3 separate regions of the Homo sapiens genome follow, and all the other regions are linked to region 1. The links come from fine-mapping of genetic effects on gene expression. A gene starts in region 1. Each other region holds a variant in brackets. All regions are shown on one strand. Distances are from middle to middle. Region 1 holds the start of PDCD7 (programmed cell death 7). Region 2 overlaps SPG21 (SPG21 abhydrolase domain containing, maspardin). Region 3 holds the start of LOC124903508 (a long non-coding RNA gene).

Evidence for each region.
Region 2: its variant is fine-mapped to the expression of PDCD7 in whole blood (TOPMed, PIP above 0.99).
Region 3: its variant is fine-mapped to the expression of PDCD7 in blood mononuclear cells (TOPMed, PIP 0.99).

Annotation. Positions count from the first base shown.
Region 1 is chr15:65,132,446-65,134,945 of GRCh38, reverse strand. PDCD7 (programmed cell death 7) reads left to right here and starts at 1,138. Exons shown (of 5, transcript NM_005707.2): 1 at 1,138-2,034. The coding sequence starts at 1,165. RefSeq lists an enhancer at 853-952 and silencers at 1,243-1,452, 1,513-1,912.
Region 2 is chr15:64,962,262-64,965,105 of GRCh38, reverse strand. It overlaps SPG21 (SPG21 abhydrolase domain containing, maspardin), which reads left to right. Exons shown (of 9, transcript NM_016630.7): 9 at 1,370-2,084. The coding sequence ends at 1,486. Among named protein-coding and RNA genes, the nearest start is that of SPG21, 26 kb to the left of the region's middle. The variant C/T (reference allele first, on the strand shown) is at 1,402.
Region 3 is chr15:64,838,131-64,840,974 of GRCh38, reverse strand. LOC124903508 (a long non-coding RNA gene) reads left to right here and starts at 819. Exons shown (of 4, transcript XR_007064682.1): 1 at 819-1,121; 2 at 1,279-1,384; 3 at 1,841-1,955. The variant C/T (reference allele first, on the strand shown) is at 1,644.

The sequences.
Region 1 (2,500 bases):
CACCAAGAATAACTGGAACCTGGGATGCAGTGGTTGCAGTGAGTGGAGAGTGCGTCATTGCACTCCAGCCTGGGTGACAGAGGGACTCTGTCTCAAAAAAAGTGGGGGGTGCACGGGACTTGGTTGACCTGGATGGCATGCAAGGGGTGGGGAGGGACCAAGGAGGTGCTGGGTCTATGGGACTTGCTCCTATGTATCCATCAGTGATCTGGTTGGCGCCATGGAGGCTGGGGCGAAGGCGGAGGGGGGGTGGGGGGTAGCGGGGAGCTAGGTTGTAAATTGACAGTTGTCCCCAGGCAATCCCCTGGTATGGGAAAGTTCCAGAGGTCCCTGGTTTAAGCTTCGGTCCTTGGAACTAATAAGCGAACACATAATTAGATAAGCTTACAGTGTAGAGAGTGTCTGGTGGAGAGAAGGTAAAGGTTAATTGGATTTTTTTTTTTGACAGGTGTCATTCTGTCGCCCAGGGTGGAGTGCAGTGGCGTTATCGTGGCTCATTGCAGTCTTTACCTCCCAGGGCTCAGGTGATCCTCCCACCTCAGCCTCCCCAATGGCTGGGACTACAGGCCGATCTCGCCTGCCTCGGCCTCCCAAAGTGCTGGGATTACAGACGTGAGCCACAGCACCCACCCTATAATTGCATTCCTAAAGAGCTAAATAGGAGGTGGGGTGAAAGGAGAAAAGTAAAAATAATTCATTTTTCTAAGAAAATGGGTAGTTGGTCACACTCCTATTTACTAGGGCCTTTGCACATGTTCTCATCTGCACTGTGCTTCCCTCTCTTTTTCTATTTAACTATTTATCTTCCAGATCTCAGCTGCAGCCGCAGTTTCTTAGGATAACCTTCTCCAACTTCTCGAAGATACTCACCATGATTAATTGATTAGTGTGTTATACTAGGCAGATAGTTCCACGAAGAGAAGCTCTGTATCTCTCAGTCTCACTGTATGCGGAGTGGGTAGCTCTGCACCTAGGATGCTCAATAAGAACGGTATTTATGAACTGAACGACAGAAGGTTGAACGACTGCCCACTTATGCACTGAGCCTTCCGGAGGGACGAGTCTACAGGGGTCGCGCGTCGTAACGACGTCACTTCCGTCGGAAGGTTCTCATGAGGAGCCACTCAGATTCCTGTCACTTCTCAAAGCATCTCCGTCGTGAACATGGCCCTGCCACCATTCTTCGGCCAGGGTCGCCCAGGCCCACCGCCCCCGCAGCCGCCGCCTCCTGCTCCTTTCGGCTGTCCGCCACCGCCGCTGCCCTCCCCGGCTTTCCCGCCGCCTCTCCCCCAGCGGCCCGGCCCTTTTCCGGGGGCCTCCGCCCCCTTCCTTCAGCCTCCGCTGGCTCTGCAGCCCCGAGCCTCCGCGGAGGCCTCCCGCGGCGGAGGCGGCGCTGGCGCCTTCTACCCGGTGCCACCACCGCCGCTGCCTCCTCCGCCGCCCCAGTGTCGGCCCTTCCCGGGGACCGACGCCGGCGAGCGGCCGCGGCCACCGCCTCCCGGCCCGGGGCCGCCCTGGAGCCCGCGGTGGCCTGAGGCGCCGCCGCCGCCGGCCGACGTGCTCGGGGATGCGGCCCTCCAACGCCTGCGCGACCGGCAGTGGCTGGAGGCGGTGTTCGGGACCCCGCGGCGGGCAGGCTGTCCGGTGCCCCAGCGCACGCATGCCGGGCCCAGCCTTGGCGAAGTGCGCGCGCGATTGCTCCGGGCTCTGCGCCTGGTGCGGCGGCTGCGCGGCCTGAGCCAGGCCCTGCGCGAGGCCGAAGCCGACGGCGCGGCCTGGGTCCTGCTGTACTCCCAGACCGCGCCGCTGCGCGCGGAACTGGCCGAGCGGCTACAGCCGTTGACCCAGGCTGCCTATGTGGGCGAGGCGCGGAGGAGGCTGGAGAGGGTCCGGCGCCGCCGGCTGCGGCTTCGCGAGAGGGCCCGGGAACGCGAGGCCGAGCGGGAGGCAGAGGCCGCGCGGGCAGTGGAACGCGAGCAGGAGATTGACCGCTGGAGGGTGAAGTGTGTGCAGGAGGTGGAGGAGAAGAAGCGGGTGAGAGCAGCGGCCGCTCATGGGGGTAGGAGTGGTGGTGGTTGGAACCTGGAGCAGCAGGAGGCTTTAAACTTCCATTTCCCAGGGCTAAGCCTCTGTTTTACGCGCAAAATGAAGCGATAGCTAACCTTCCCAGCTCATACCACCATGTTAATTTTGTGTTAATGATGTGTGGTACACAAAAGTTCCAGGTGCACTGTAAAATCCTGTAAACACAAAGTATAGGATTACACGGTGGCACTGCACGAATGACAGGTCTCCCCTATCCTGCTCCAACATTGTCCACTTACTCTCAAAACCAGTAAGTGTCTAGTTCCTTGTGTCTTGTACTGCCCTAGGTGGTTTTAAGAATACAAAATACAGGCCGGGCGCGGTGGCCCACGCCTGTAATCCCAGCACTTTGGGAGGCGGAGGCGGGTGGATCACGAGGTCAGGAGTTCAAGACCAGCCTGGCCAAGATGGTGAA
Region 2 (2,844 bases), 170 kb after region 1:
CTTTTCTAAGGACAGCAGGCCTGCATTCACACACTGAGGTTACTATTGGTATGATGTGACCTTGCCCTCTGGACACAGTGAATTCCATCAGAGCAAGACACCAGACCTAAATGGGGTCAATCTGAGTCCTGTGAAGTGACTTCTTGATCTAATTTTAATGCATTAAAAGAAAACCCTACCAGGCGTAGTGGCTCATGCCTGTAATCTCAGCACTTTGCGAGGCTGAGGCAGGCAGATCACAAGGTCAGGAGGTCAAGACCAGCCTGGCCAATATGGTGAAACCGTCTCTACTAAAAATACAAAAAAAATTAGCTGGACGTGGTGGTGCACACCTGTAGTCCCAGCTACTCGGGAGGCTGAGGCAGAAGAATCACTTGAATCCTGGAGGCAGAGGTTGCAGTGAGCCGAGGTCACGCCATTGCACTCCAGCCTGGGCAACAGAACAAGACTCCGTCTCAAAAAAAAAGAAAAGAAAAGAAAGCCCTAACAAACACCATCCCTTCATACTCTAACTAAATGGATAATAGAATAGCAGTGAGGGGTGAGTGCCCTGGCAGTTTGGCAAGATGAATCAAGAGCCTTAAAAAACCAGTTATATCCTGGCCACGCATGGTGGCTCACACCTGTAATCCCAAAAACCAGTCATATCCCTTGATCCTGTCATCCCCTTATAGAAGACAGGATCCTAAACAGGAATACTTGATGCCCAGAGATATTCATCATAGCAGCACTAGTCACAGTAGCAGAAGATTGGAAGGACCTAACTCACAGCAGCAGAAGGGAAGGGTAAACATCTCATGAGCATGCACCATCTAAGATGTCTCAGGAGACTCTGCAGGGACTCAGGGAGACTGCTCAGGGAGTGAGGAACAAAGATCCCAAATGTGGTTTCAAAAAATTGTTTGACTTTTCTCTATTTAGTATGTCTTAGTCTGTAAATTTTAGAAGTATAAAACATTTGTCCACTATGGTGATGTTTTCCTACCAAACTTTTTATAGAAGGCAGTATACATTTTACTCTGTAATGCAGCCATTTAAAACAATGATTCTGGCAGGGTGCAGTGGCTCACACCTGTAATCTGGCACTTTGGGAGGCCGAGGCAGATGGATCACTTGAGGCCAGGAGTTCAAAACCAGCCTGGCCAACATGGTGAAACCCTGTCTCTACTAAAAATACAAAAATTAGCTGGGCATGGTGGCGGGCACCTGTAATCCCAGCTACTCGGGAGGCTGAGGCAGGAGAATTGGGTGAACCCGGGAGGCGGAGGTTGGAGTGAACCAAGATAGTGCCACTGCACTCCAGCCTGGGCAACAAGAGTGACACTCCAGCTCAAAAAATAAATAAAATAATGATTCTGCATTTCAACAGATACATTTGCTGCAATTCCATGGAACCAAATA[C/T]GCGGCCATTGACCCATCAATGGTCAGTGCCGAGGAGCTTGAGGTGCAGAAAGGCAGCCTTGGCATCAGCCAGGAGGAGCAGTAGTGTGTCTCTCGCTGTCAATGATGAGTTGACCCGGTGTGTTCTTGTATAGTCAGTGGCATCAGCACCCGTCAGCCAGCCTTTTCCTTCAGGTTCGTCAGGCTCACCGGTTCTCACTGTGTCTGGGAAGTAGGACTGATGGTCATCTTCATGACAGGCGGCATCTCCACTAAGCCTGTGTAACTGTTCCCTCTTTGGTTTTCTTAGCTTTTGAATTTGAAGAAGTACTTTTGAAGACTCCCATTTTAAGAACCGTGCAAATTTTGCTACCAAAAGTCTTCACCACTGTGTTCTTAAGTGAATGTTAATTTCTGAGGTTTGGGACTTTGTGGTGGTTTTTTTCTTCTTTTCTTTTCCATTCTTCTTTCTTTCTTTTTATGTTGTTTGCTGTAAATGCTGCACATCCAGATTGCATATCAGGACATTGGTTATTTTATGCTTTCTTGGATATAACCATGATCAGAGTGCCATGGCCACTACCCCACTGTTTGCTCTCCTGCAAATCAACTGCTTTTAATTTACACTTAAACAAATTGTTTTGAGTGTTAGCTACTGCCTTTCTAGATATTAGTCATTTGGAATAAAAATTCAATTTAACTGAGTCGCTTTTGTGATTATTGTTGCTGCCCAACTGGGCTACACAGGCCTAGGACTTTCTGAGAAGTAGGTCATGGTTGCCAATTCTGTGTGACTTTGGGTAAGTTACTTAATCTCCCTGAAGTACAGTTTGCACATCATAAAATAACCCTAAGCTATCATTTATTGATCTGCTACTGTGTGCCAGGTACTTTTCTCGTCTTCTTTCCCCTGAGTGAAAATGCTTAAACCCACATGAAGTAGAGAAAATGGCATAATGAATGATGTTCCCATCATCCAGCTTCAAAAATTATCAACTCTCAGACAGTCTTGTTCATCTTTTCTTTTTTTTTTTTTTGAGACAGAGTTTCGCTCTTGTTGCCCAGGCTGGAGTGCAATGACGTGATCTCGGCTCACCGCAACCTCCGCCTCCCGGGTTCAAGCAATTCTTCTGCCTCAGCCTCCCAAGTAGCTGAGATTACAGGTATGCACCACCACGCCCGGCTAATTTTGTATTTTTAGTAGAGATGGGGTTTCTCCATGTTGGTCAGGCTAGTCTCGAGCTCCTGACCTCAGGTGATCTGCCCACATCAGCCTCCCAAAGTGCTGGGATTACAGGCATGAGCCACCATGCCCGGACTTGTTCATCTTTTAACCTACCCACGTTTCTTCCACACATGCTCCTATCACTAAATTATTTTAAAGCCATTTCTGGTGCTGTGTCATTTCATCTGTAAATATTTCTATGTGTACCTTTAAGATACAGCCTTAATACCATTATCACA
Region 3 (2,844 bases), 290 kb after region 1:
TGGTCAACCCCGTCCCATGCCAAGGAAGGGAAAATTAAGTGCATGTGAGATCAATGGTGACCTTCTTCGGCTCTGGCTGCCATAGCAGCGGCTGTGCCAGCGACCAAGCTCCCCTTTCACGGCCTTCTGCCAGCCCTCAGGCTCCCAGGCTACTTCCAGCCCTGTACGGAAAAGGGCAGCCTGGGGCTCCCAGGCCAAGGGGGAAGGAGATGCAGGTACACTTCTCCCTCATGCCTAGGCCTGGGATCCTTTAGCTAAAGGAATGAAGAAAATTGAGGCTGATATTATCACACTGGTCAAGAAAAAGAAAGAATAGAAAAGAAAGAGAGAGGAAGGAGAGAGAGAGGAAGGAGGGAGGGAAGGAAGGAAAAAAGGAAAGAAAGAAAAAGAAAAGAAAGAGAAATGAAGGAAGGAAAGAAAGAAAAGAAACAAGGAAGGAGAGAGGAAGGAAGGACGGAGGGAAGGAAGGAAAGAAAAGAAAGAGCTGGGAGCGGTGGCTCACACCTGTAATCCCAGCACTTTGGGAGGCTGAGGCAGGCTGATCACCTGAGGTCGGGAGTTCAGACCAACCTGACCAACGTGGAGAAACCCCGTCTCTACTAAAAATAGAAAATTAGCCAGGCGAGGTGGTGCATCCCTGTAATCCCAGCTACTTGAGCGGCTGAGGCAGGAGAATCGCTTGAGCCCGAAAGGCGGAGGTTGCAGTGAGCTGAGATCACGCCATTGCACTCCAGTCTGGGCAACAGGAGTGAAACTCTGTCAAAAAAAAAAAGGGAGAGAGAGAGAAGGGAGGGAGGGAGGGACGCAAGGAGGGAAAAGAGAAAGAAAGAGAAAGAAAGAAAGGAAAGAAAAAGAGAGAAAGAAAGGAAGGAAGGAAAGATGAAGGAAAATTGAGGCTGAGGATCTGAGATAGTCTGTATATGTAGCAACCTCTTTCGGCCACCACATGGTTTTACTCCCTCAATCTGCAGAGCTGTGCAGCATTCTACTCCAATGATCAAGGACTCAGAAGATCTTGTATCTGGAAACTCATGCTCCACCTGCAGCAGACCAGAGACCCTGGGGAAATTCATTTTGTTACACAGAAGCAGCCCTTTGTAGGGAGAGAGCAGTGAGGACAGGTTGGTTTGACATCCAAATAGTTCTGTCATTTTGGGGAATGAGCCATTGAGAACTACTCTGGCCTCAGTTTCCCCATCTAGCTCAAAAAACCCTCTGGTTTTGCCTCTATACTGTGTGCTTTCATTCAACACATATTTTATTTTCTTTGTCTGTCAGTCCCTACAATAGTGGCTGGGAGATAATGGCAGAGCTCAGGATCCCTGTCCTCTACTGGGGAGAAAGGCATGTAAGAAGATGAGAATGCCGAGTGTTAAATGAGAAGGTAAATGCACAGAGAAGGGGCACCAGAACCAGGACAAAGGGGTAGGACAGGCATTCTAGGGAGAGGGGACAGCGTGTAATCAATGGCATGGAGGCATGAACAGCACAGCATGTGTATGTAGGGCGGCCAGTCTGGAAAAGCAGACAGCTTTGTGCAGAGAGGGCCTTGTAGGTTGTGTGGAGGAGACCACATTTTAACCTCAGGGCAATGGGAAGTCATTGAAGGTTTGGGAGGTGTGGGGGTCTGTTTTGTGTGTGTA[C/T]CATTTAATCATTCTGCAAAGTGTACTGAGTGCCCCTTAAGTGGGGGTGCTTTCTAAGGCATCATCCTACAATTATTCACTGAAAAGAATGTAAGGCCCCCTGTTATCTACTCAGTATTCTAAACTCTCCCTATATCTCATTTAATCCTCACGAAAGTATCCATGAAATAGATACAATTGTTATCCTCATTGAACAGATCAGGAACCTGAGGCTTGAAGAAGTTAGATGACCTGGTTAAGGCCACTTGACTGGATTCAAACCCTGCCTGACTCCACATGACTCCTTTGGGCAGCATCGTGTGACCACACCACGTAAGATCTAGGTCCTGCCTTGGAGAGCTGATGAACCAAACCAGCAGGAAGGTAGACAAGTCCTGATAAGGACACTTAAAAAAATAATAATATGGGTCTTGCTCCGTCACTCAGGTTGGAGTGCAGTGGTGCAATCACAGCTCAGTGCAGTCTCAACCTCCCAGGCTCAAGTAATCCTCCCACCTTGGCCTCCCAAAGTGCTGGGATTATAGACCTCAGACATGGTACCCAGCCCTGAGAAGGACTTTGATGAAAAAGTACATGGTGTGTGGTGAGAGTGGCTCCCAGAGGAGGGGTTGAGTTGTATTCCAGCAGGGTTAGTTGGATAGGGGCGGAGGGAAAGTTCAGGACAAGAGAACATCTCACAAAAGTGAGAACTTGTAGAATATCCTGACTTGTTAGGTGAATTGTAGGCAGTCTTTATGTGGTCATATGTGTTGGGGGCAGGATGGGGAAGGCGAATTCGGTCAGATGCCGCCAACGAGGCAGCAGGAGCCAGAGCACTAAAGGCCTTGAGTGCTGACCTAAGGGATTGAAATTCCTCCTGCAAGTAGCAGGGGGCTACTGAAGCTTGAAGTGAGGTATGACACAATCTCATTTTCATCTTACAAGCTCATTTTCATGACTGCAATATGGGCAAGAAAGACAGGGTAGTCCATTGAGTAGATTATTCCAGAAATCCAAGTTGGATGTAATGCAACTTGCTGAACCACTGAACCAGAGCAGTGGTTACGAAGATGTGGAGGATAGATTCAAGAGCTAGAAAAGAGATAGAGGGATCAGGACTTGGAGTGGTTTCTTTATTCATTGATTCGTCCATTCAAAAAATACCTGTTGTGGCTGGGTGTGGTGGCTCACACCTATAATCCCAGCAATTTGGGAGGCCGAG